Linked DNA regions of Homo sapiens. The protein of the gene in region 6 purifies or fractionates together with the protein of the main gene of each other region. This does not show direct contact. Each region holds a gene or a part of one and is shown on either strand. Other genes may lie near its edges. The genes, in order: PNPT1, FAXC, KIAA1191, PITPNB, MME, ALDH6A1 and GLUD1.

Region 1 (3,500 bases), on a different chromosome or scaffold from region 6:
GCTTTTTTTTTTTTTGAGATGGAGTCTCGCTCTGTCGCCCAGGCTGGAGTGCAGTGGTGCGATCTCATCTCACTGCAACCTCTGCCTCCCGGCTTCAAGCGATTCTCCTGCCTCAGCCTCCTGAGTAGCTGGGATTACAGGCATGCACCACCATGCCTGGCTAACTTTTGTATTTTTAGTAGACATGGGGTTTCACCATGTTGGTCAGGCTGCTCTCGAACCCCCCACTTCCTGATCCACCTGCCTTGGCCTCCCAAAGAGCTGGGATTACAGGCGTGAGCCACCATGCACAGCCGAAATTGGATTTAAAAATATGTGCCAATTAAGCATTCAGATATGTTTAAAATAAGCCATCAAAAGAAAAAAAAAGAAATAAAGAAATATTGCTAAGTCTATTTTGGGCCTATTTAATATTTACTGGGAAAATTAATTTGGGGTTTCACCAATTACTAGTAGAAAATTTGGTTAAAGAATTCAGTTGGCCGGGCGCGGTGGCTCAAGCCTGTAATCCCAGTACTTTGGGAGGCCGAGGGGGGCGGATCACAAGGTCAGGAGATCGAGACCATCCTGGCTAACAAGGTAAAACCCCGTCTCTACTAAAAATACAAAAAATAATTAGCTAGGCGTGGTGGCGGGCACCTGCAGTCCCAGCTACCGGGGAGGATGAGGCAGAATGGCGTGAACCCGGGAGGCAGAGCTTGCAGTGAGCTGAGATCGCACCACTGCACTCCAGCCTGGGTGACAGAGCGAGACTCTGTCCCAAAAAAAAAAAAAAAAAAAAAAAAGAATTCAGTTAAGAGAACCTATCATAATTAGAACCACAGAACTGCTACTTTAATTTTATAAAATGATATAGAAAACAAAATATACTATACCTTAAAAAATAATGATTATATGGCAATTGGCATGTAATCTAAACACCTTATGATTTCAAAGTAAATGTAAAATTAAATTGGGATTATAATAGGAATCTGTTAAAAACCAAAACAGGGCTGGGCACGGTGGCTCATGCCTGTAATCCTGGCACTTTGGGAGGCTGAGGCAGGAGGATGGCTTGAGGCCAGGAGTTTAAGACCAACCTGGGCAACATAGTGAGACCATGTCTTTACAAAAAAATTAAAAAATCAGCCACGTGTGGTGGTGTGTGCTTGTAGTCCTAAATAGGAGGCTGAGGTGGGAGAACTGCCTGATCCCAGGAGTTCAAGGCAGCTGTGAGGTACAATGGCACCACTGTATCCCACTGTGGGTGGCAGGGTGAGACCCTGTCTCTAAAGAAAGGAAAATGCTCAGCATAGTATATTACTTGATATTACCTGATTTCAGTTATTGTGGCGGTATATACTGCTCCAAATTCTAATTGCTGCTCCTGCTGTAAGTGCAAAATAAGCCATAAGATTCATAAAGAAAACATCAACAAAAAGTAGAAAAAACAAATATAGCTATATGATACGTAATTAATATGATCTATACTTACATCATCCTTGCAGATTTCAGTAATGAAGTCTCTTGCCTCATGCATAGCACTGGGTGTTGGTGCAAATACAGAAAACGTTTCTTCATCCACCTGACTAATAGTTACACCTTTTAAAAACAAAATGTAACATATTAAAGTTAACTTGGCTGGGCATAGTGGGTCACATCTGTAATCCCAGCACTCTGGGGGGCTGAGGTGGGAGGATCACTTGAGCTCAGGAGTTCAAGGCCAGCCTGGGCAACATAGGGAGAGCCTGTTACTACAAAAAATAAATTCAAAAATTAGCTGGACCTGGTAGCATGTGCCCACCTACTTGGGACTCACAGTCGGGAGGATCACTTGATCCCAGGGGTCAAGGCTGGAGTTAGCTGTGATTGTGTACTGCACTCCAGTCTGGGTGACAGAGCAAGGCCCCATCTCAAAAAAAAAAAAAGTTAACTTGCTCATTCCAGTGGAAACTCGTCTTAAAAATAGATGTGAGAATAGGAGGGACCTATTAGTAGCTGGGTGGAGTTATGCTGTATTTAATCATTACTTTAGGAATGAAGGAATTCATTCATCAACAAATACACTCTGCATACTTGCTAGGTACCTGGCATTATACTAGGTAGGCCCTGGGGATACAATGGTGAGCCAATATGCTTGATTTCTTGAAATTCACCATCTAGTGAAATCAAATATATCTATACAAATTTTGGAGAGTCTGGTTCTGCTCTCTTAATTACGAGTAGAAACTATAATAGAACCCTTTCCTTACTTTTTTTCTTTCTCCCGCTTACTCTTACGAGGGGTGAATAAATGAATAAGGGACAAAATCACATCAGTTTCTCAGTGTTAGCAAATGGCTAAGGTGACAGTGCTTCTCACTCTCTTGCAGTAACCTCAAACCTTGAAGTACGAGGTAATTCAAACATTGCTTCAGGAAAAATAAATTAAAGCTTTTTTTTATATACTCTTTAAATAAAAGAGTTAAAATAAAACTAAGTGAAAGTAGCAGAATAAAAAGAAATAACTAAGTAATAATTCCTCTAAAGTTAAAAACTAAAAATTATTCTAGATGTTCAACTATAAAATGTTGCAAAAAAGTCCTGATGAATTCTTTGTAATCCTTCTTGAATTTAGTTAAGAATGACCATTTGCTAATTTATTAATAGGCACACAGAAAACTCACAGTCAAGACACGTCATATCCTTTTCTCCTGGTCTTTCTCTCATTTCTCAAATAAATATATATTTAAAGCAACATACTAGAGATGAAATAGCAAACTTTTATGGTCTAGCATTTAATTAAAAAACCCCAAACTTCATACAACTCTTACCTGTTTCAGCCTGAAGTTTTTTTAAGTTATAGCCACCAGGTCCAACAAATTTTGCTCGTTTTGATAATGGAACCTGAACAGTTTCTGGAACGTAATACAGACAAATATATAAACAATTCAACTACATACATGAACCTAAAACATGCCATGGTCACTTGAGATTTTTTTTTTTTTTGACCTAGACACATGTAAAAATATTTTACTATAAAACAGAAAAGTAGATGATTAAAATTACTGAAAACTGTTAAAGAATATTCCCTAAAATTTAAAGCATTTTAACTACAAAAGTATTTAAAATATTTTCGTTTTGTGCACTGGGTAAAAACAATTTAAAAGCAGTAATATTCATTCATATATTAATGTTTATCTTACCATGATCACTAAAATTTTTTTTTTTTTTTTTTTGAGACGGAGTCTCACTTTGTCGCCCAGGCTGGAGTGCAGTGGCGCGATCTCGGCTCACTGCAAGCTCCGCCTCCCGGGTTCATGCCATTCTCCTGCCTCAGCCTCCCGAGTAGCTGGGACTACAGGCGCCCGCCACCACGCCCGGCTAATTTTTTGTATTTTTTAGTAGAGACAGGGTTTCACCGTGTTAGCCAGGATGGTCTCGATCTCCTGACCTTGTGATCCGCTCGCCTCGGCCTCCCAAAGTGCTGGGATTACAGGCGTGAGCCACCGCGCCCAGCCGATCACTAAAATTTTAATGTA
Region 2 (3,004 bases), on a different chromosome or scaffold from region 6:
GCCTTTCATGTTTGTTTTCATCCAGATTTACCTGTATATAATGTTGAGCACAGGTTACCCAGTGTGTTTGCCCAGGCCCAACATACCCTGCGGTAGGTGAACGTAACCCTCCAATCCGAACAGTCCCTCCACTGGAGACGACCCCCTAAGTCTTCATAACAAGAACGCTGGCACTAAAATAGACCTCTTAGGCATACGGGGCAGCAACACGCTAATTCCGTAAGGAAGGAAGCTGGTTCTTTTTCCTCTTTTTTTTTTCCTCCAAAATCCACTTTTATCCAAAGGATAAGCTGCTCTGACCTTGACAGTTTTTAAAAGAAAAGTCTGTTGCTAATGGGAACCAGCCCAGCTGTGAAAGATCTAATGAGTGCCTGCCAGTGGCGTCATCTAGAAACAAATCAAGCAGCTTCTGAGAGAGCAGGGAGACCAGCTGTTCCGCCTCTCCTCTAAAAGGAAAGAAGAACAGAAATATGAAACATTGAGTCAAGAAACAGTACAAATGGCAGCAAAACATGTATTTTAACGACTCTGAGATCACAGCACATTGGAAAGGTAAATGACCCTCTTCCCTCTGATGAGTCCTGAAAGCTAGGACAGCAAAGCTTCCCTAACAGGACAGACGGGAAGTCCAGGACCCCACACAAGTTCTAGAAGGGTGTGGAACCAACTGACGTTGAAGTAGATGTAGATCTATTTCAAAGTATTTCTGACTAGGGTCTATGTTAATAAACAGGGCTGATAGGATTTATAGGTCAAGAGAAATGGAGTCTAAAAAGATGAAAACCAAACTACAGGTCGAGCATCCCAAATCCAAAAATCCAAAATCTGAAACGCTCCAAAATCCAAAACTTTTTGAGCACTAACATGACACTCAAAGGAAACGGACATTGGATCATTTCAGATTTCCAGTTTTGATTTTGGGATACTCAACTGGTATAATGCAAATATTTCAAAATCTGAGAAAAACCCAGATCCAAAACACTTCTGGTCCCAAGCACTTCAGATAAGAGATACTCAATCAGTATTATCACTGAAATGGGAAATTAGGGGGTTCTCTCATTTCCTACTTAATAGATATTCCCATGTTGGGAAGGGAGGGTTAGAATTTTGAATGTTACCTGATTGTAATTTGCTCTAAATGGTAAAAAGCTAATATTTGAGTAACAGTATTATTATTTGACCAAAGATTTGGTCAAATTTTAAGATAGAATTTGAAACATCCTGCATGTCTCTATAGATCTTGACATGCCTATAGGCCCAGCTATCCTTTAAGGTTCATTACCATACACATGTGTGAATCACTTCATAGTAAGATTTGAATTTCCAAAATCTTGCTGTGAATCTCTGACCCTAAAGACTTGAGCATATCATGGCCATATTACCATATGCCAGTTTATCATCCCAAACGTCTTTCTTCATCTGTAATTTGGGAACAATAATTACTTTATTGAAGAGGTATGAAAACTAATTGAGACTATATGTGTGTGTGTGTGTGTGTGTGTGTGTGTGTGTGTGTGTGTGTGTTTGAGATGGAGTTTTGCTCTTGTTGCCCAGGCTGGAGTCAATGGCACAAAGTCAGCTCACTGCAGCCTCCACCTCCTGGGTTCAAGCGATTCTCCTGCCTCAGCCTCCCAAGTAGCTGGGATTACAGGCATGCACCACCATGCCCGGCTAATTTTGTATTTTTAGTAGAGACAGGGTTTCTCCATGTTGGTCAGGCTGGTCTCAAACTCCCAACCTCAGGTGATCTGCCCACCTTGGCCTCCCAAAGTCCTGGGATTACAGGCATGAGCCACTGCACCCTGCCTAATTGAGACAATATTTATACAAGGGGAAATTGGTCTATTATAAGGCCTAGCCATAGTAAAGGTCTCAACATGTGCTCCCAGCTCTCCCTCTCCTCCTTGTCTTCTCTCTACCAGTGGTTCTCACACTTCGTAACACTCTGAGGCACACTGGGCATGAAATAAAAGCAGGAGAGGATGGGACAGCATATTCCAGAGATCTGTTTTTCTTCTTAAAAGCCACTCACTTGAAATTCTATCAAAGTTATATGCCTAAAAAATTCATTACCTCTGTTTTAATTATACAAGAGCCTTACAACTAAAATACTCTCCCAGTCATCTAAGAGACCACCACTTAACAGTATATTAGATGCAAACATTTCAGATTTTCCCCATGAGCCTGAAGTTTAAACATTCAAATTTGCAAAAGAGAAGTAAATTGGAAGAAAGACATTCACAGAAAACTATTTCATATCCATTAGTTATCATTTACACATCAAATACATATAGCATTAAGACCAAATATACAGAATTTCCACATTTATATACAGTAGTCAACATAGTGCACAATTCAAATCTATCTTACAATCAAGTGTACAAGTTTAAATATGGCTTTATAAACTACTAATAACTCTGCTAAAGTAACTCATAGATCCAGAAATAAACACTGAAATGCCATCTTCACATTGGGGTCATCATTCAGCAAGATGCTAATCATTGTGATTGCAAAACAGAGGGTGCAGGTAAGTGTTTCCAGGTGGTGTCCGCCCATTAGCCCCGAAATGTGGGTTCAAATTATGCCAACATTGGCCCTTCCTATCTCAGATACCTAAAAATAAGTCTGCACATCTTCCACACATTTGAAGACACAAGATTATAAACAAATAGAAAAAAAGACATGTAATCAGTGAGATGATGAATTATCAGGCATTATCAAAACATGTTTTTCAGATTGATGCTGAAATTCACAGACAATACATCCTGCATTTGCATTATCTGGGTATCACCTCACCCCTACTTTCTTTTCTTGTTTTGCTTACCTCAGTGTGTTGTTAAATCTTTCTGGAATTTTCAAGGCATTCTAGATCAAGTGGTCCCAAAAGCAGAATTAAAAACATCAGTCTTAAAGGTGACATCAAATTGTTCATCCTTCTCTTTCCCAACCAAAAATGCCTATTTTAAGTAAAAATAATTAAATACCTTGACCTAAAATCATGCGT
Region 3 (3,101 bases), on a different chromosome or scaffold from region 6:
AAGAGCCAGAACGCTAGCTGCCAGCCTTCTTGGCCTTTTAAGCAGGGCTTAAGCTCTTGTCTCGCTGCTGCTCCTACCATGTACAAAGCCCTGCCCATCCTCAGTCTCTCCAAGCCAATACTCAGGCATGCTGCTTCTCTCCAGCTAAATGCTTCCTCTGAGGAGCCTGTTCCATTCTCTCCTCCTTCTCTCCCATAGTCAGCCACTCTGGGTTCCCTCAGCACCGTGAGCATTCCTCTGACTCGCAGTCTAGTGGGGAGAGACAGGTCTACATCTCAGCTCTTCTAGAGCAAGGTTCCCATGCTGTTTCCTCCCTCCAGGCCTGCCACGCCACTGCTTAACCCAAGCTGCACACCAAACAATGATCACGTTTGAATTTTCTCAAACGCTCAACAGATCCATTCATGTAAGTTGACAATCTGTTACAAGATGTAAGTTACAGCTAATATTTCAGCCATCCTCATGTTCTACTCCTATGGGCAAGACACAGAAAGTGGGTCAACCAAAGTCAATCCTACCATTATATAAGGTGAATTGCTCAAATAGAATTCTCACTGACCTATCCTGGAAAGTTCTCAGTTAAGGGTCAAAGGCTGCCGGTGCCCCTCTCTGGAAGCTTCTGTCTTGTTTGAAAGCTTAAACTGGCCACCAGCCCAAACCTGATTTCCTATAGCAGTTTTTAAACCTAGCCTGCAAAAGAATCATCTGGAATGCTCATTACAAAATGCAAACAGGGCCGGGTGCGGTGGCTCATACATGTAATCCCAGCACTTTGGGAGGCCAAGGCAGGTGGATCACATGAAGTCAGGAGTTCAAGACCAGCCTGGCCAACATGGTGAAATCCCATCTCTACTAAAAATCAGCTGGGCATGGTGGCGCATGCCTGTAAATCCTAGCTATTTGGGAGGCTGAGTTGGGAGGATCACTTGAACCCGGGAGGCAGAGGTTGCAGTGAGCCGAGATCACAACACTGTACTCCAGCCTGGGTGACTGCAAACAGGCCACAGTTTTATATCCACAGTTTTATATCCCCACCCACAGGCCACCAGATCCGGGTTATTCCTCGTTATGTATAATGTATACCATGATTCTTTCCTGCGTCGTGTGCTCTCCTCACCTTGCCCTCATCATACCCTGTTCAGAACTCTTAAAATAAAGCTTGGAACAAGCCTGGATTCTGACCCCCCCTTGCCTAAAGAAGACAGCCCAAGTTTCTTAACTGTAATTGTGTCTCTTCACAATCTGCCCCTGACTTCCATATGAGCCCCTTCAGGAGCCAGATTTCCAGGCTGCTTTGGAATGAGGAGGAAGAAGCCAACAGGAAGTAAGGCATCAGGAGACTTGGGTTCGGGTACTATGACTGGCTGAATAGATGGCCTCGAACCTCAATCTCCTCATTTACAAAATATGGAGAAGAGCATCTGTCCCAAAAGGTGATTGTGAGGATGAAATGAATGCAAGTGCTTCACAATCATAAAACACTATCCAGTATGAAGCGGTCTTCACTGAAAGAAAGTCATTTGAAACTATTCATTCAAATACTTGGCTATCACTAAATTAACCCTTACCAAAATTCTTCACTTATAGAAATGAAATAGCAAAAACATTCCAATTCCACATTTGATTTTAACTTGTTCCTTTCCAGTTAAGCTGTTACCTCTGTTGAGGCTGCCCAGTTCTCCCCAAGATACTCCACATTTGCTTTATGATTCATAAAGTACTCCTATGTATATGTAAGCTGAGGCTCTCACTTGATTCTGCTAACCAGAAGTAGCAAAACAGACACCCCACTGTATAGGTGGATAAGCAAAAACTACGAGGCTAAGAGCTCGGGAGCGAGACTAACTCCACAGCCCCCAACTAACTGAGCTGGTAACTTCAAAACCACAGCCACATTTCAAGCCATGAACACTGAAGGTTTTGTTTTTTCAAAGTTCCTAAGAGCTTACGTGGAGTGCTTCGGCCACTCGAAGGTACTTGGTCTCCTCGGTGGTGAGGCCCTTGTGGGGTGTGTAGCCAGCATCTCTCAGCCCTGCCTGTCGCTCAAAATGCTGAATGCTTTCCTGGGTCTGTTCTGGGAACAGAGGAGATGACAGTCATGCCCATTCCCCTCTCCCATCACAAAATAAGGAGGACAACATGGATATCTACTATTCTCCCCAGAAGCAAGAGACCACACTGACCATTCAAAGAAGAGGAGACTTTCCCCAGAGAGGCACCACAGCAGTAATTCTGAACCTCACACAAAGGCTCTCTAGCCAGAAGGAAGCCTTCCCTCACACCAAGCTGAAGAGGTTATTCCTAAAGGGACAGCTGAAGAACCTTGAGGACAATACTCCCACCCTCCTCTTAGTTGTACATGGTGACATTTTCTTTGTATTTAGAAATGCAACATGGGGCTGGATGCAGTAGCTCACACCTGTAATCCCAGCACTTTGGGAGGTCAAGGCGGGCGGATCAAGAGGTCAGGACATCCAGACCATCCTGGCTAACAAGGTGAAACCCCATCTCTACTAAAAATACAAAAATTAGCTGGGTGTGGTGGCAGGCGCCTGTAGTCCCAGCTACTCGGGAGTCTGAGGCAGGAGAATGGCGTGAACCCGGGAGGCGGAGCTTGCAGTGAGTCGAGATCGTGCCACTGCACTCCAGCCTGGGCGACAGAGCAAGACTCCATCTCAAAAAAAAAAAAAAAGTTACATTGTGCTAAAAGAACAATGAATAAGTTTTGTAACACTGCTAGAACACATTCTCAAGCTTGTAAAATAAAAGTAGTGTTGCTGATTCAACAGATGTGAATAAGAAAATCAAAGTATAGGTGGTGCGTGATGGCTCACACCTGTAATCCCAGCACTTTGGTTGGCCTAGGCGGGCAGATCACGAGGTCAGGAGTTTGAGACCATCCTGCCCAACAGAGTGAAACCCCATCTCTACTAAAAATACAGAAATTAGCCAGGCGTGGTGGTGGGCGCCTGTAGTCCCAGCTACTCCAGAGGCTGAGGTGGGAGAATTGCTTGAACCTGGGAGGCGAAGGTTGTGGTGAGCTGAGACCACAGCATTGCACTCCAGCCTGGGTGACAGAGTGAGACTCTGTCTCAAAACAA
Region 4 (3,500 bases), on a different chromosome or scaffold from region 6:
ATCTTATCTAGATTATAAATTATAGAGGATTACTAAGAAAAACAACATAAAGGCTGGGTGCAGTGGCTCACACCTGTAATCCTAGCACTTTGGGAGGCTGAGGCAGGCAGATTACCTGAGGTCAGGAGTTCAAGACCAGCCTGGCCAACATGGTGAAACTCCATCTCTACTGAAAATACAAAAGTTAGCCAGGCATGGTGGTGCATGCCTGCAGTCCCAGCTACTTGGGAGGCTGAGGCAGGAGAATTGCTTGAACCCAGGAGGCAGAGGTTGCACTGAGCAGACAGCACGTGATTGCACCCCAGCCTGGGCAACAAAGTAAGACTCTGTCTCAAAAAAAAAAACAAAAAGAAAAACAACATAAAATGTCAAATGATCACTTGAAAGAAAACTCAAGTAAAATACTACATATTAAAATTCAAAGTTCTATTAACTGGCATCAATAACGTAAGAGCACCGTAATAGAACAGTAAAAACAGAATTTGCCACAATCATTAACCTACTCTCCTGGAATGAATGTGCATCAGAAAACAGAAACTGCTGAGTCCCACCCCTAGAGATTCTGGTTCGGTAGTTCTTGGGTGAGGTCAGAGTATTTGCATTTCAAACAAGTCCTCAGATACTGTGCTGCTGCTGGCCCATCCAAAGACCACACTTTTGAGAACTCCTAGACCAAGGGCATCAACCTATACAACAGGACTTCCCAAGTTCCACGACAAACCTTACCAAAAGTTAATGATTACATTTTTTTAAGTCCTAACTCAAAGATGTTCTTGAATCTTAAAGAGATAAATGTGAACCAACTTATATAAGTCAACAGCTTTTCAACATTTTTGTAAGTTATTCAAGTACTTTATCCCTCCTGCCTTTTGGCCATTTCTCTAACATGAGCCCATACCCTTGCAAAGCAGACAAGAGGTAAAAATTAAAGCAATCAATCCTGCTATGCAGAGCAGCTCTGACAAACACTCAGATATAAAAGCAATCTAATTAGCAAAACTAATGGCTAAAATTGGGCTGGGGATTATCTGTGAATTTTGTTTATTCATGCTCTCCTTGTCTCGGATAAAGAGAGTTGCTGATCAAAACAGCAACTTTACCAAAGTGTCAAGGCAAGCGGACTGATAGGGAAAGCCTATTTGGTTTCTGGCTGCTTGCCCGCCTCATCTCAATTTGACACAGCTTGGTGCGGTCAGATACACAGGTGACATTACTTTGATGATGACAAAGTGAACTACATATAGAATTCTCGTTTCCAGGGACTTTTGTACTAAAAGTGCAGAGTTGAAACTTACATTTTCTAATGTTCCCAAGTCTGGTTTGTGCCATGTTTCGATTTTAATGAAGAAATCATCTTTCATATATTCATTCTGCAGAAAACACAACAGGAAAATGACAGTGATCTTCTACCTGTTCCTTGGTGCCCACGTCTGAGGGAGCTTTTCCCAGTATAGGCATCCATGCTTTGACTCTACAAGGAGACTGATACTCAAGTGACAAAGAATCATTGGCTACCGATTTTTATAGACTTGTCAGGCAAACCAAATGCTACATGCTTTTAAATAATTTAAACAATTCTACTTGCCACGTGGCATATCGGGCTAATAAAGAAGCTGTGAGGTCTGATAAACAAATATGGCGTTTGAAGGGAGTAACAAAAGCAAAATAAAATCAATAGGGAGATTTTGAGACAAGGGTGGAAAGGGCCCATGAACACTGGGAACATGTGGTAGAGTGTGGCGGCTGGTTGGTGGGACACAGGAAGGAACCATGCAGCGAGGTGCAGTTAGCAAAGAATGGTTGAAAATAATTACTGTGTAAAACAAAGTTTAAAGATAAAGAAAGTATGAGACACAAAAATAGTTTTACTCACCGTTACAACTGAGGCATAATGGAGAGGTAGGTAATGAAAGGAGAAAAATTTCAGAATATTAATTGGAGTCAAAACAATCTGTCCCAATACTTAATGTCACAAAGACTAAACTATCTGAAAACAGAACATTTATTTAGTAATTTATGTCTGCAAAACAGTTTCCACACAAGTGACACTATACAGTACATTAGATTATGGAGTACAAATAAAATATGAACAATAATCTAATTTTAAAAATAATGCTAAAAAGAATAATAATGTCACAAAAGCAAAACATTATTTATAAGGTCAATTTAGCAAATGATAGGATGCTGTTTCAGAAGTCTGTCCTATTCCTCCTCTATTATGTAGCAATTTAAGTAAAATACTGTTGAAACACACCAAAACACCCTTCTGAGTGTAAACGACCTTTCTTTTGGCTTACCCCTGGAGCCAGCATAGTCAGCTAGGACCCCAAAGTGGCTGCCATGTGGGAATGAACTTATGCCTGTCACAAAGTTCTAGGGGGAGGAACCCAATGCAGCCCTTCCTCTGCCATCATTCTAGCAGTGACTATCCAAGAACCCAAGGAAGACCTTGCTCAGTGTAAACCTTCTCAAAGACACTGGTACTGGGAATCCCTCTCATTCTCAGGGTGGAGGGGTGCAATGGCTGCTGGGGGCCAAGCTTACTTGTTCTACAGTAGGGGTACGCATTCCAGGCTTTCTCATGAAACACCAAGGAGCCCTCGGGAGCAATCATCCTCACGAATGCAGGCACTTTGCTGGGAGAAGAGAGATACTGGATATATTTAACAGCACCATCAATTCTTTCTTGGTATCTATCCAACTGCTTGAAAGAGTATGGCAATCAAAGGTGACCAGGTTCTAAGTCTGATGAACTAGTTTATTTCAATCCTAAAGTAATCCAGTAGAAATGAACACATAATTTTTTACATTTTAAATAAAAATGATTAAGAATATTTAGCTGGGTATGGTGGCTCATGCCTGTAATCCTAGCATTTTGAGAGGCTGAGGCAGGAGGATCACTTGAGCCCAGGAGTTTGAGACTAGCCTGGACAACATGGTGAAACCCTGTCTCTACAAAAAATATAAAACTAGCCAGGCATGGTGGCACATGCCTGTAGCCCCAACTATTCAGGAGGCTCAGGTGGGAGGATCACTTGAACCTGGGAGATAGAGGTTGCAGCAAGCTGAGATCACACCACTGCACTCTAGCCTGGGCAAAAGAGCAAGACCTTGTCTCACAAGGAAAAAAAAAATTAACTGTATAAAAGGTTTTGTGTGTGTGTGTGTGGTTTTTTTTTTTTTAAATAGAAGCAATTATTTCTTAAGAACTTCTGATCTACTACCCCAATGTAAAACCTAAGAGTTAACAGCTATTCAATCTGCACATTAATACAATGTAGTTCTTAAGAGTTAGATGACATTATACTGTTTCTTAATGCAAAAAGCCCCAGAATAAGGAGATATCTCTGAATAAAAGTCTGAATACATTTTATAGAACAGACCTGAAGAAAAATGACAATGTAAAGGACCCATGCAGAAAATGAGAAATTAAAGCATATCCAAGTATAAAATTTTGTAGGTATGGGAGATGAATGTCACTTGCTGCCTTAAGTATATTC
Region 5 (2,886 bases), on a different chromosome or scaffold from region 6:
TACAGATGAAAATTTGAGACTATTTAAACTTATAAATCATATTGATGAAAAGATTTAAGCACAAACTTTAGGGTAAAAATTGCCATTGGACAGTTGTCTAGAGATATATATACTTGTGGTTTTCAAATTGGACTTTCAAAATTAAATCTGTCCCTGAGAGTGTCTCTGATAAAAGGGCAAATCTGCACCTATGTAGCTCTGCATCTCCTGTCTTTTCAGGTTTGTCATCAGATGGAAATATTTTGATAATAAATTGAAATTGTGAACTCATTGCTCCCTAAGACTGTGACAACTGTCTAACTTTAGAAGTGCATTTCTGAATAGAAATGGGAGGCCTCTGATGGACCTTCTAGAATTATAAGTCACAAAGAGTTCTGGAAAAGAACTGTTTACTGCTTGATAGGAATTCATCTTTTGAGGCTTCTGTTCCTCTCTTTTCCTGTTGTATTGACTATTTTCGTTCATTACTTGATTAAGATTTTACAAAAGAGGAGCACTTCCAAAATTCTTATTTTTCCTAACAAAAGATGAAAGCAGGGAATTTCTATCTAAATGATGAGTATTAGTTCCCTGTCTCTTGAAAAATGCCCATTTGCCTTTAAAAAAAAAAGTTACAGAAATACTATAACATATGTACATAAATTGCATAAAGCATAAGTATACAGTTCAATAAACTTAACTTTAACTGAACAATGGCCCTGTAGCCAGCACCTGTAAGAAACAGAGCAGTACCAGCGCTCTAAAAGCACCTCCTTGTCACTTTATTACTCCCAGAACAACAACTATCCTGACTTCTAATATCATTCACTAGCTTTGCCTGGTTTTGTCTTTTATGCAGATAGAATCAATCAGTATGTATTCTTTTGTGCCTGGCTTCTTTCTCTCAGCCTTACATTTGTGAGATTCCTCTGTATTGTGCTGATTGTGGATCTTTTCATTCTCATTGCAGAATAATGTTCTATTGTGGGACTTATTACAATTTGTTCATCCTATTGTTGATGGGCACTTGAGAACTTTCCATTTTGGCGCTATTACAAATAGTGCAACTATGAATGTACTGCATGTTACCATCTTACTTGAGCCTTTAATGGACTTATTTCTTCAAATCCTTCCAAAAATTATTATAAGCATTGAAATTATAGTTTCAAGCCAACTGTGGATACCCTTACCCTTTCCTCCTTTATCACAACCACCGTTACAAGTATACTTATATTTCCCTAAAATACATTTAAAACTTACCTAAGTGACATTTGTAGTTGGAGTAATAGGAGCTTCCAGCTCTAATAAAACAGCTGTCTCTAACTTATTTTATTTCCATCATGTCAGAGCAGGTGAAGAGCCAGAAGTGAAGAGTGACTAGTACAAATTATAAAAAGCCACTAGACTCTTCACTGTTAGCTTTTTAAAACATTAGGCTCCCATCCCTATGGAGGAACAACTCTCCAGTGCCTGGATCCCCTCTGTCTACAAATATAAGATTTTCTGGGCCTAAAGGATAGATCAAAGTCAAAAATAGCAATGCCTCCCTATCCCTCACACATCCAGACATCATGAATTTTACATGGTACTCTTGTTGAGTTCTGTAGAGCCTTCTGATGTCTCTAAAGCACTACCGATTCTTTGGAGTTGTCACATCAGATAAGACATATCTCTAATTCCATCCATAAATCCAGTTCTACTATGGCTGAGTTCTGGTCAAAGAAAGAAAGTTTAGAAGCTGAGACACAAAGGGTTGGGAGCTGATGAAACTCACAAATGATGGTAGGAAGAAGCTCTCGACAATACCCGTTGGCAAGGAGTCTGCCTCCATGCTGCAGTGTTCGAGTGGATTGTAGGTGCAAGATGGAAAGGATTGTAGGTGCAAGCTGTCCAGAGAAAAGAGTCCTTGTTCCAGCCCTATTCTGCCACTCCTGACAGGGTGACCTTGGGTATTTGCAATATTCCTTTGGGCCTCTGCTTCTCTCACCTAAAAAAAGAGAATTAGATTATATTGGTGGTTCTCAGCAAGAGAAGGAGTATGTGTCCAATGCTGCCTTCCCATGAATCTGTCTCCCAGTTATGAATCAGTGGGCAGGATAAACTGAAAACTCCCATTTACGTGTCTGAATCGAGTGAGACAAAATTTTAGTCCAAATAACAAGTACCAAAGTTTTATCAAGTTTGGGTCTGTGCTGCTGTTACTGTTAACCATTTAAGTGGGGCAAAACCTTGCTAATTTTCTCAAAAGCATTTATCATTCTTGTTGCCACAGCTGGAGCTCTCAAACTAAAAGACATTTGTTATTTTGGAAAGAAGAAAGACTCTATTCTCAAAGTTTCCTAATCAGAAATTTTTATCAGTTTCCAGTCTCAAAAATACAAAATAAAAACAAACGTTTTTAATACTATTGCTTTTATGCCTAGTCAACTCTGTTCCAAACTGCCAACTCCTGTGTAAATCTCTACCCCATTTATTTCTTGAAAAATATTAAGATTAAATGGAGCTTTTATCTCTGTAGTCTTGCATTTCCCACTAGCTTCAAATTGAATTTTTAGAAAATGAATGATATAAGCTTTGTATCCATTATGTCCTTGTTTTCCCCACCCTTTTTCAAAGATCACCATGACTTTCTGATTGGATTTTTTTTCAAAAGTGAAATGGCCATCAAATGTTATATGGAGTCACTAGCATAATCAGATGACTTAGGCAAAAGCCAAAAGTAAGTGTCTTTATCCACAGTCTCTAGTCTGAAGAAGTTGACCATTTGGTTGGTCAAGTGGACAGAGGAGTCACATCTGACTGGTGGTCAAACTGGCACATGTTTATCGCATTCTAATCTTTTATCTAACAATGGTTTCTTAATTTCTGCTTCTTTGTATTTTGCATTTCCTCTAAAACAGTGAGAAA
Region 6 (3,500 bases):
ATCTGGTTTCATTGTTACACTAGGCAGTTCCCTATAGAAACTTTGCGGGGGTTAATAGTCCTGAGGAAGATTTTAGTTACAATGTATTCCAATCCCATCGATCTGATCTGAGCAAAGCTGACAAATGAAGCTGGTCAAAAATAAAGGGAGATTACTCAGGATGGAGTCAGTCTTAAACAAACTTGTTTCTAACGGCCCATGGTAGGCATGACAACAGCAGGTGAGGAAAGAGTAGCATCTTCTTCTTTCCACTGAGAAGTAATGGTCTTTAACTGAGTGTAGAATTGGATGCCCTAAGGAAAACAGAAAAAAAGTTAGCATATATTTCTGGGGTTTCATGATTCTTCTTTTAATTAGCTTTTGAAGGAGGTATTATAAAGTGCTACTCACTTTCCTAATTGAGAAATGCAATCAGAATCCAATATATATTGTTCCTAAGATAATTGATCTAAAACATTTAACATAATACCTGGCAGATAGTAAACAATCAAACCTTAGCCATCATTATTATGCTGAAACTAGTATTTCTTTCTTTTTTGTTTGAGATGGAGTCTTGCTCTGTCACTTAGGCTGGAGTGCAGTGGCATGATCTCAGCTCACTGCAACCTCTGCCTCCCGGGTTCAAGCAGCTCTCCTGCCTCAGCCTCTCGAGTAGCTGGGATTACAGGCACCTGCTACCACGCCTGGCTAATTTTTGTATTTTTAGTGGAGATGGGGTTTCACCATGTTGGCCAGGCTGGTCTCGAACTCCCGGCCTCAAGTGATCCGCCTTCCTCGGCCTCTCAAAGTGCTGGAATTACAAGTGTGAGCCACCGTGCCCCCAGCTATTATATAGTAGGCCATTTATTTATTTATTTATTTATTTTGAGACAGAGTCTTGCTCTGTTGCCCAGGCTGGAGTGCAGTGGTGTGATCTTGGCTCACTGCAACCTCTGCCTCCCAGGTTCATGTGATTCTCCTGCCTCAGCCTTCTGAATAGCTGGGATTACAAGTGTGTGCCACCATGCCCAGCTATTTTTGTATTTTTAGTAGAGAAGGGCTAATTTCAGATTAGCCCATGTTGGCTAGCACCATGTTGGCCAAGCTGGTCTTGAACCCCTGACCTCAGGTGATCCGCCAGTCTTGGTCTCCCAAAGTTCTGGGATCACAGGCATGAGCCACTGTACCCAGCGGCCATTTCTGATAATTATCAGAGATCATGAGCTCTATATTGAAGTGGCAAACCCAAAGTATCTTAGAAATCTAAAGTAAAATGTCTGACATTATACAAATTCACTTCTCAATTACCTATAACATGTGAGCCCAAAAATTCAGCATATTTAACTCTCTCTATATATAGATATAGTTTATAAGAGTAGGCTTGAGCAAAAGAGAATACATTGTGCAGATCTAACACTTATATAATTACTAGCAAGCTAGAATGACATTTTACCAGATTACCAGAGTAATTTATAATAATTAAACTGGGGGGTGCAGCCAGGAGCGGTGGCTCACACTTGTAATATCAGCACTTTGGGAGGCTGAGGTAGGCGGATCACTTGAGGCCATGAGCTCAAGACCAGCCTGGCCCAACATGGCGAAACCTCGTCTCTACTGGGAAAAAAAAAAAAAAAAAAAAAAAAAAAAAGCTGGGCGTGGTGGAGCCTGAGGCAGAATTGCTTGAACCTGGGAGGTGGAGGTTGCAAGTGAGCCGAGAATGCACCATTGCACTCCAGCCTGGGCAACAGAGCAAAACTCCCATCTCAAAAAAATAAATAAATGGAGAGGGTGGGCAGGGAACAATTTTTAAACAATAGTTGTACTCTGTTTTGCTTAAAAGAAATGTTACTAGTATCAAATTAGTCATTTTTACAAAAGCTGTGACTAGGCCGGGTGCGGTGACTCACTCCTGTAATCCCAGCACTTTGGGAGGCCGAGGCAGGCAGATCACCTGAGGTAAGGAGGTCGAGACCAGCCTGGCCAACATGGCGAAACCCCGTCTCTACTACAAATACAAAAATTGGCGGGTGTGGTGGCACGTGCCTGTAATCCCAGCTACTCGGGAGGCATAGATACGAGAATTGCTTGAACCCTGGAGGCTGAGGTTGCAGTGAGCCAAGATCATGCCACTATACTCCAGCCTGGGTGACAGAGAAAGATTCCATCAAAAAAACCCCAAAACAAAAAACCAAAAGCTGTGACTAATATACAAACTATATAATCAACCTCCAAATACCAAAGTGTTGACTTCTTAACCATTTGGCCACACTGTCATAATGCTATGCAATCCCATTGTTAATTTTTTAATAACCCAAACATAAATAAAATAAAAAAGCCCCACATCCCTCGCCCTGTGGCAGCACATAGCTGGCACAGAAAAAAAAAATCAACCTATAAAAGGGGAGACTTGTATAACAAAACATGTAATTTATTAATGAAGGTTTCAAAATGGCTCTAGTCCTATGACTAGAAAGAACTTCCCCTAGCCTATTTGTTCAACAAATGTTTGGGCAGCCTGCTCTGTTCCAGGTACTGCAGATAAGTAGATAACAACTACAGTCTGATGAGGGCTTCTTTAAATGGCTTAAAGAGCCCTACATGACTCAACCCCTGCCTGCCTCTCTAACTTCATTTCTTCCTTTTCTTCTCATTTGCTCACTGTGCCCCAGCCCATTTCCGCTGTCTGAATGTGCCATGCTTCTTCCTGCCTCGGGACATATGCACCTGTTGGCCGATGTGGCAATAGTAATAATTCTTCTTTTTTTTTTTTTTGAGATGGAGTCTTGCTCTGTTGCCCAGGCTGGAGTCCAGTGGTGCAATCTCGGCTCACTGCAACTTCCGCCTCCCAGATTCAAAGGATTCTTCTGCCTCAGCCTCCCGAGTAGCTGGGATTATAGGCACCTGCCACCACACCTGGCTAATTGTTTTATTTTTAGTAGAGGGGGTTTTGCCATGTTGGCCAGATTGGTCTCAAACTCCTGACTTCAGGTGATCTGCCTGCCTCAGCCTCCCAAAGTGCTGGGATTACAGGCGTAAGCCACTGCACCTGGCCAATAGTGATAATTCAGTCCTTACAATGTTATGAAATACATAGGTACTATTGTTATTCATTTTATACGTGAATAAATTTAAGGCATAAAGAAGGTATCCTGGTTGGCTGTGGTGGCTCATGCCTGTAATCCCAGCACTTTAGGAGGCTGAGGCAGGCGGATCACCTGAGGTCAGGAATTCGAGACCAGCCTGGCCAAAATGGTGAAACCCTATCTCCACTAAAAATACAAAAATTAGCCAAGTGTGGTGGTGGGCATCTGTAATCCCAGCTACTTGGGAGGCTGAGGCAGGAGAATTGCTTGAACCTGGGAGGCGGAGGTTGCAGTGAGCCAAGATTGTGCCACCGCACCCCAGCCTGTGCGACAGAGTGAGACTCTGTCTCAAAAAAAAAAAAAAAATTAATGGTATCCCCCAAAGTCAGACAGCTAATAACTGGCTTAGCTGGGATTTGAACACAGGCAATTTGGTTC
Region 7 (3,500 bases), on a different chromosome or scaffold from region 6:
CTGTTGGGAGTGGGAGGGTAGAAAAAATGCTGCAGCTTCTTGTGGGTATCCTTCACACACAAACACCCAGTGCCCCAAGCACTGTGCAGTCAAACATCAACCCCACTCAGACTTTCCTCCTTGGGATTGAGAAGCAATGGATTATAGAGAAAGAAAGGTGGATTAGCACTCCAAAACTTTGAAGAGTAATTGACCAAGACCCCCAAAGCCAAAGCTGTGGGCATCCCCACTTCCAGTATACCCTGTACCAACACGTAATGGCTACTAGATACAGGGGCACTAGTACCTACCTGTCTGCTTGGCTACCTGCCCTCTTTGCAGAAGTGGTGAAGGGAATCACTCAACCTCAGAAAGGGAAAATGGCTTTCTCATTTTCAGATTGAAAGAGGTTGGCAGTGGGTGAGGAGAATAACAGGTAAGGATCTCTTTTAATATACCCATTTGAAGCCAAAACCTCTGTTTAGACATACGGTATTTTGAACCTGGTGATTATTCATTGCCCATGTTTGTGAATTATCAGAAAGCAGAATTCTTGCCAGGCATAGTGGCTCATGCCTGTAATCCCAGCACTTTGGGAAGCCAAGGTGGGAGGATCACTTGAGCCCAGGAGTTTGAGACCAGCCTGAGCAACATGGTGAGATCCTGTCTCTACAAAAAATTCAAAAATTAGCTGGGCATGGTGGTGTGCACTTGTGGTCCCAGCTACTCAGGAGGCTGAGGTGGGAGGATTACCTGAGCCTAGGAGGTTGAGGCTACAGTAAGCCATGTCTGTGCCACTACACTCAGCCTGAGCAACAGAGCAAGACCCTGTTTCCCACCCCTACCCCCCCAAAAAAAAGCAACCTGAATTCTTGAACTCCCTGCAACCAGGTCACCCAAACCAAAGGTAAAAGGAACATAAAAAAGCCTTCTGGAAAGTGTACAGAAATTCATTGCAGGGTGATTTTTGTCTTGTGAAATCATAGTTACTGTTATTAGCAGGTTTTTTTAACGTTTTATATTCATTTTTCATGGTGTTCTGATGTACAAGCTGCTTCAAGTGTTTTTGGACATAGCTTGGATGTAAAATGTAAAAAGTGGATATTTTCAATTTGTAGCTTTCTTTTTTGAAGCTTACTTAAGTTTGTTCTAAATATAACCCCTTCTTTCTCACCCACCCCAACACATTTTTTTAAAAACACCACCAGGTATCCGTTACAGCACTGATGTGAGTGTAGATGAAGTAAAAGCTTTGGCTTCTCTGATGACATACAAGTGTGCAGTGGTTGGTAAGTGATCGCCTTTCTTGCTGCCTAATGAGAACTCTGGGGAAATATGTTTACACACATGTTACTGTTAAGATGCTGTAGAAATATACCTTATCAGAACTGATTTTTTTTCAAGTTGTAATCTTTAAGACCTGCATCATTTTTCAATTAGTCTAAATTAAGATATAGCCTTTTTTTTTTACATGGGGGATTTTTTAAAATAGGAGATAATTGGATTTTAAGTCTAGATCTTTGTTTTCAATTCCTCAACACATTCTGTAAATAAGACCAAATTATAGTAGAAGGAGAGTAAATAAGCTATTATCTTTTAGAAGTGGTAAAGAGCACTGATTAAATATATATTAGAACTTGGCTAGCCAATTTTATTGAACAATTTCTGTTCAACAAAATGTTGTTTAAAGTACAGTTTAGAAAATGATGGTAGGTTTATTTCTTGAATTTTCAGAAATTCAAGCTTAAAGCATCACGTTTCTCTAATATTGTGTGGTGCTTTCTGTCATTTTACTTTTTTAACATTTATATGGAATAGCAACCATCAGCCTTCTCTTTCAGATGTGCCGTTTGGGGGTGCTAAAGCTGGTGTTAAGATCAATCCCAAGAACTATACTGTAAGTATGAAAGTGATATTTGTTTTTTATTGTTGTTGTTGTTTTTGTTTTTCTGAGACAGAGTCTTCCTCTGTTGTTCAGGCCGGAGTACAATGGCGCAATCTTGGCTCACTGCAACCTCCGCCTCCCGGGTTCAAGCAGTTCTCCTTGATCCAGTAACTGGGATTACAGGTGCACGCCACCATGCCCGACTAATTTTTGTATTTTTAGTAGAGAGGGGATTTCACCATGTTGGCCAGGCTGTTCTTGAACTCCTGACCTCAGGTGATCCACCTGCCTTGGCCTCCCAGAGTGCTAGGATTGCAGGCATGAGCCACCGCACCCGGCCTCAAAGTGACATTTGTGCACACAGTGCATTTATGAAGGACTTGAAATTACTGGGCTTCTCTGTATCCCCCACTATCAGTGAGATCAGTAGTCCCCATTGCTTTTCAAATGGAATAGAAAAATGTAAAGAATTAACTCATAGCGTGTTTTGCCATATAAAGATCACCTACTTAATATCTATATCCTTTATCATTTTCTGTTTCATTTGGTTTTGTTTTTATGAGTCTTTTGTTTTACTTTTTTGCTTTTTGTTTTATTATTTTCTTACTTAGTTAAAACGTAATTAATATCTTCACTTATATACTTATACCCATATTTATATAATGTCTTCACTTAGACACTTATACCCATATTTAAGAAATACTGTGATCTGATTAGCCAGGCATAGTGGTGCACACCTGTAATCCCAGCTACTCGGGAGGCTCAGGCATGAGAATTGCTTGAACCCAGGAGGCAGAGGTTGGCTGAGATTTCACCACTGCATTCCAGCCTGGGTAACAGAGCAAGACTCTGTCTCAAAAAGAAAAAAGTATTACTGTGATCTGAAGTTTTTATGTCAGGATCTGATTCTAGTGACACATATCTTAACTAAGACTATAAAAACCTTACTTTTTATCCAGTCAGTTCCAAGTTAATTCAAACTGATTGTCACAATGCTTTACATAATACTAAATTATCTATATACAAACATAAATGCATGATTTTTATTCTCTTTAAAATTCACCATTTAAATGGAATATAATTATATTTAAATTAATCTTAATTAAGATTTAGTGTATTTTTCAGTGGGGAATTAATAGAATGGGAATTTGAGCCCTAGTTCTACTATCTTGTTTTTATAACCTACTTTTTTGATCCCTTATTTTGTCACCTTTAAAATGGCAATGCCTACTTTATGAGTTGTTCTAAGGATTACATGAGAAGACATATGAAAATGTACTATAAATAGAAAATAAGATGCTAGCTATAATCTCAAGCGATTTTTATATCAATTTTTTCTTTTGTTTTTGTTTTCTTATTTTACAGGATAATGAATTGGAAAAGATCACAAGGAGGTTCACCATGGAGCTAGCAAAAAAGGGCTTTATTGGTATGTGTAGCCACATAGTTTTTGGTATAAAGTGGGAACATCTAAAAATTTTTTTTTTTTTTTGAGACGGAGTCTCACTCTGTTGCCCAGACTAGAGTGCAGTGGTGCGATCTCGTCCGCCTCCTGGGTTCAAGCAATTCTCTTGTCTCAGCCTCCCAAGTAGCTGAGATTACAGGCATGTGCCACCACACCCAGCTGATTTTTGTA

Evidence for each region.
Region 1: the proteins of ALDH6A1 (region 6) and PNPT1 fractionate together in Homo sapiens (co-fractionation; one large-scale study listed by BioGRID). This does not show direct contact.
Region 2: the proteins of ALDH6A1 (region 6) and FAXC fractionate together in Homo sapiens (co-fractionation; one large-scale study listed by BioGRID). This does not show direct contact.
Region 3: the proteins of ALDH6A1 (region 6) and KIAA1191 purify together in Homo sapiens (co-immunoprecipitation; one large-scale study listed by IntAct). This does not show direct contact.
Region 4: the proteins of ALDH6A1 (region 6) and PITPNB fractionate together in Homo sapiens (co-fractionation; one large-scale study listed by BioGRID). This does not show direct contact.
Region 5: the proteins of ALDH6A1 (region 6) and MME fractionate together in Homo sapiens (co-fractionation; one large-scale study listed by BioGRID). This does not show direct contact.
Region 7: the proteins of ALDH6A1 (region 6) and GLUD1 fractionate together in Homo sapiens (co-fractionation; one large-scale study listed by BioGRID). This does not show direct contact.

The regions. Positions count from the first base shown.
Region 1 is NC_000002.12:55,641,845-55,645,344, forward strand, and holds part of PNPT1 (polyribonucleotide nucleotidyltransferase 1, mitochondrial precursor), read right to left. Parts: intron 2,877-3,500; coding exon 2,793-2,876; intron 1,582-2,792; coding exon 1,475-1,581; intron 1,370-1,474; coding exon 1,314-1,369; intron 1-1,313. UniProt on the Homo sapiens protein: RNA-binding protein implicated in numerous RNA metabolic processes. Catalyzes the phosphorolysis of single-stranded polyribonucleotides processively in the 3'-to-5' direction. Mitochondrial intermembrane factor with RNA-processing exoribonulease activity.
Region 2 is NC_000006.12:99,270,668-99,273,671, forward strand, and holds the end of FAXC (failed axon connections homolog), read right to left. Parts: 3' UTR 501-3,004; downstream 1-500. UniProt on the Homo sapiens protein: May play a role in axonal development.
Region 3 is NC_000005.10:176,348,664-176,351,764, forward strand, and holds part of KIAA1191 (putative monooxygenase p33MONOX), read right to left. Parts: intron 2,075-3,101; coding exon 1,950-2,074; intron 1-1,949. UniProt on the Homo sapiens protein: Potential NADPH-dependent oxidoreductase. May be involved in the regulation of neuronal survival, differentiation and axonal outgrowth.
Region 4 is NC_000022.11:27,895,257-27,898,756, forward strand, and holds part of PITPNB (phosphatidylinositol transfer protein beta isoform), read right to left. Parts: intron 2,637-3,500; coding exon 2,545-2,636; intron 1,882-2,544; coding exon 1,874-1,881; intron 1,371-1,873; coding exon 1,296-1,370; intron 1-1,295. UniProt on the Homo sapiens protein: Catalyzes the transfer of phosphatidylinositol and phosphatidylcholine between membranes. Also catalyzes the transfer of sphingomyelin.
Region 5 is NC_000003.12:155,181,319-155,184,204, forward strand, and holds the end of MME (neprilysin), read left to right. Parts: 3' UTR 1-2,386; downstream 2,387-2,886. UniProt on the Homo sapiens protein: Thermolysin-like specificity, but is almost confined on acting on polypeptides of up to 30 amino acids. Biologically important in the destruction of opioid peptides such as Met- and Leu-enkephalins by cleavage of a Gly-Phe bond.
Region 6 is NC_000014.9:74,060,454-74,063,953, forward strand, and holds part of ALDH6A1 (methylmalonate-semialdehyde/malonate-semialdehyde dehydrogenase [acylating], mitochondrial isoform 1 precursor), read right to left. Parts: intron 294-3,500; coding exon 189-293; 3' UTR 1-188. UniProt on the Homo sapiens protein: Malonate and methylmalonate semialdehyde dehydrogenase involved in the catabolism of valine, thymine, and compounds catabolized by way of beta-alanine, including uracil and cytidine.
Region 7 is NC_000010.11:87,074,344-87,077,843, reverse strand, and holds part of GLUD1 (glutamate dehydrogenase 1, mitochondrial isoform a precursor), read left to right. Parts: intron 1-1,187; coding exon 1,188-1,268; intron 1,269-1,820; coding exon 1,821-1,876; intron 1,877-3,229; coding exon 3,230-3,293; intron 3,294-3,500. UniProt on the Homo sapiens protein: Mitochondrial glutamate dehydrogenase that catalyzes the conversion of L-glutamate into alpha-ketoglutarate. Plays a key role in glutamine anaplerosis by producing alpha-ketoglutarate, an important intermediate in the tricarboxylic acid cycle.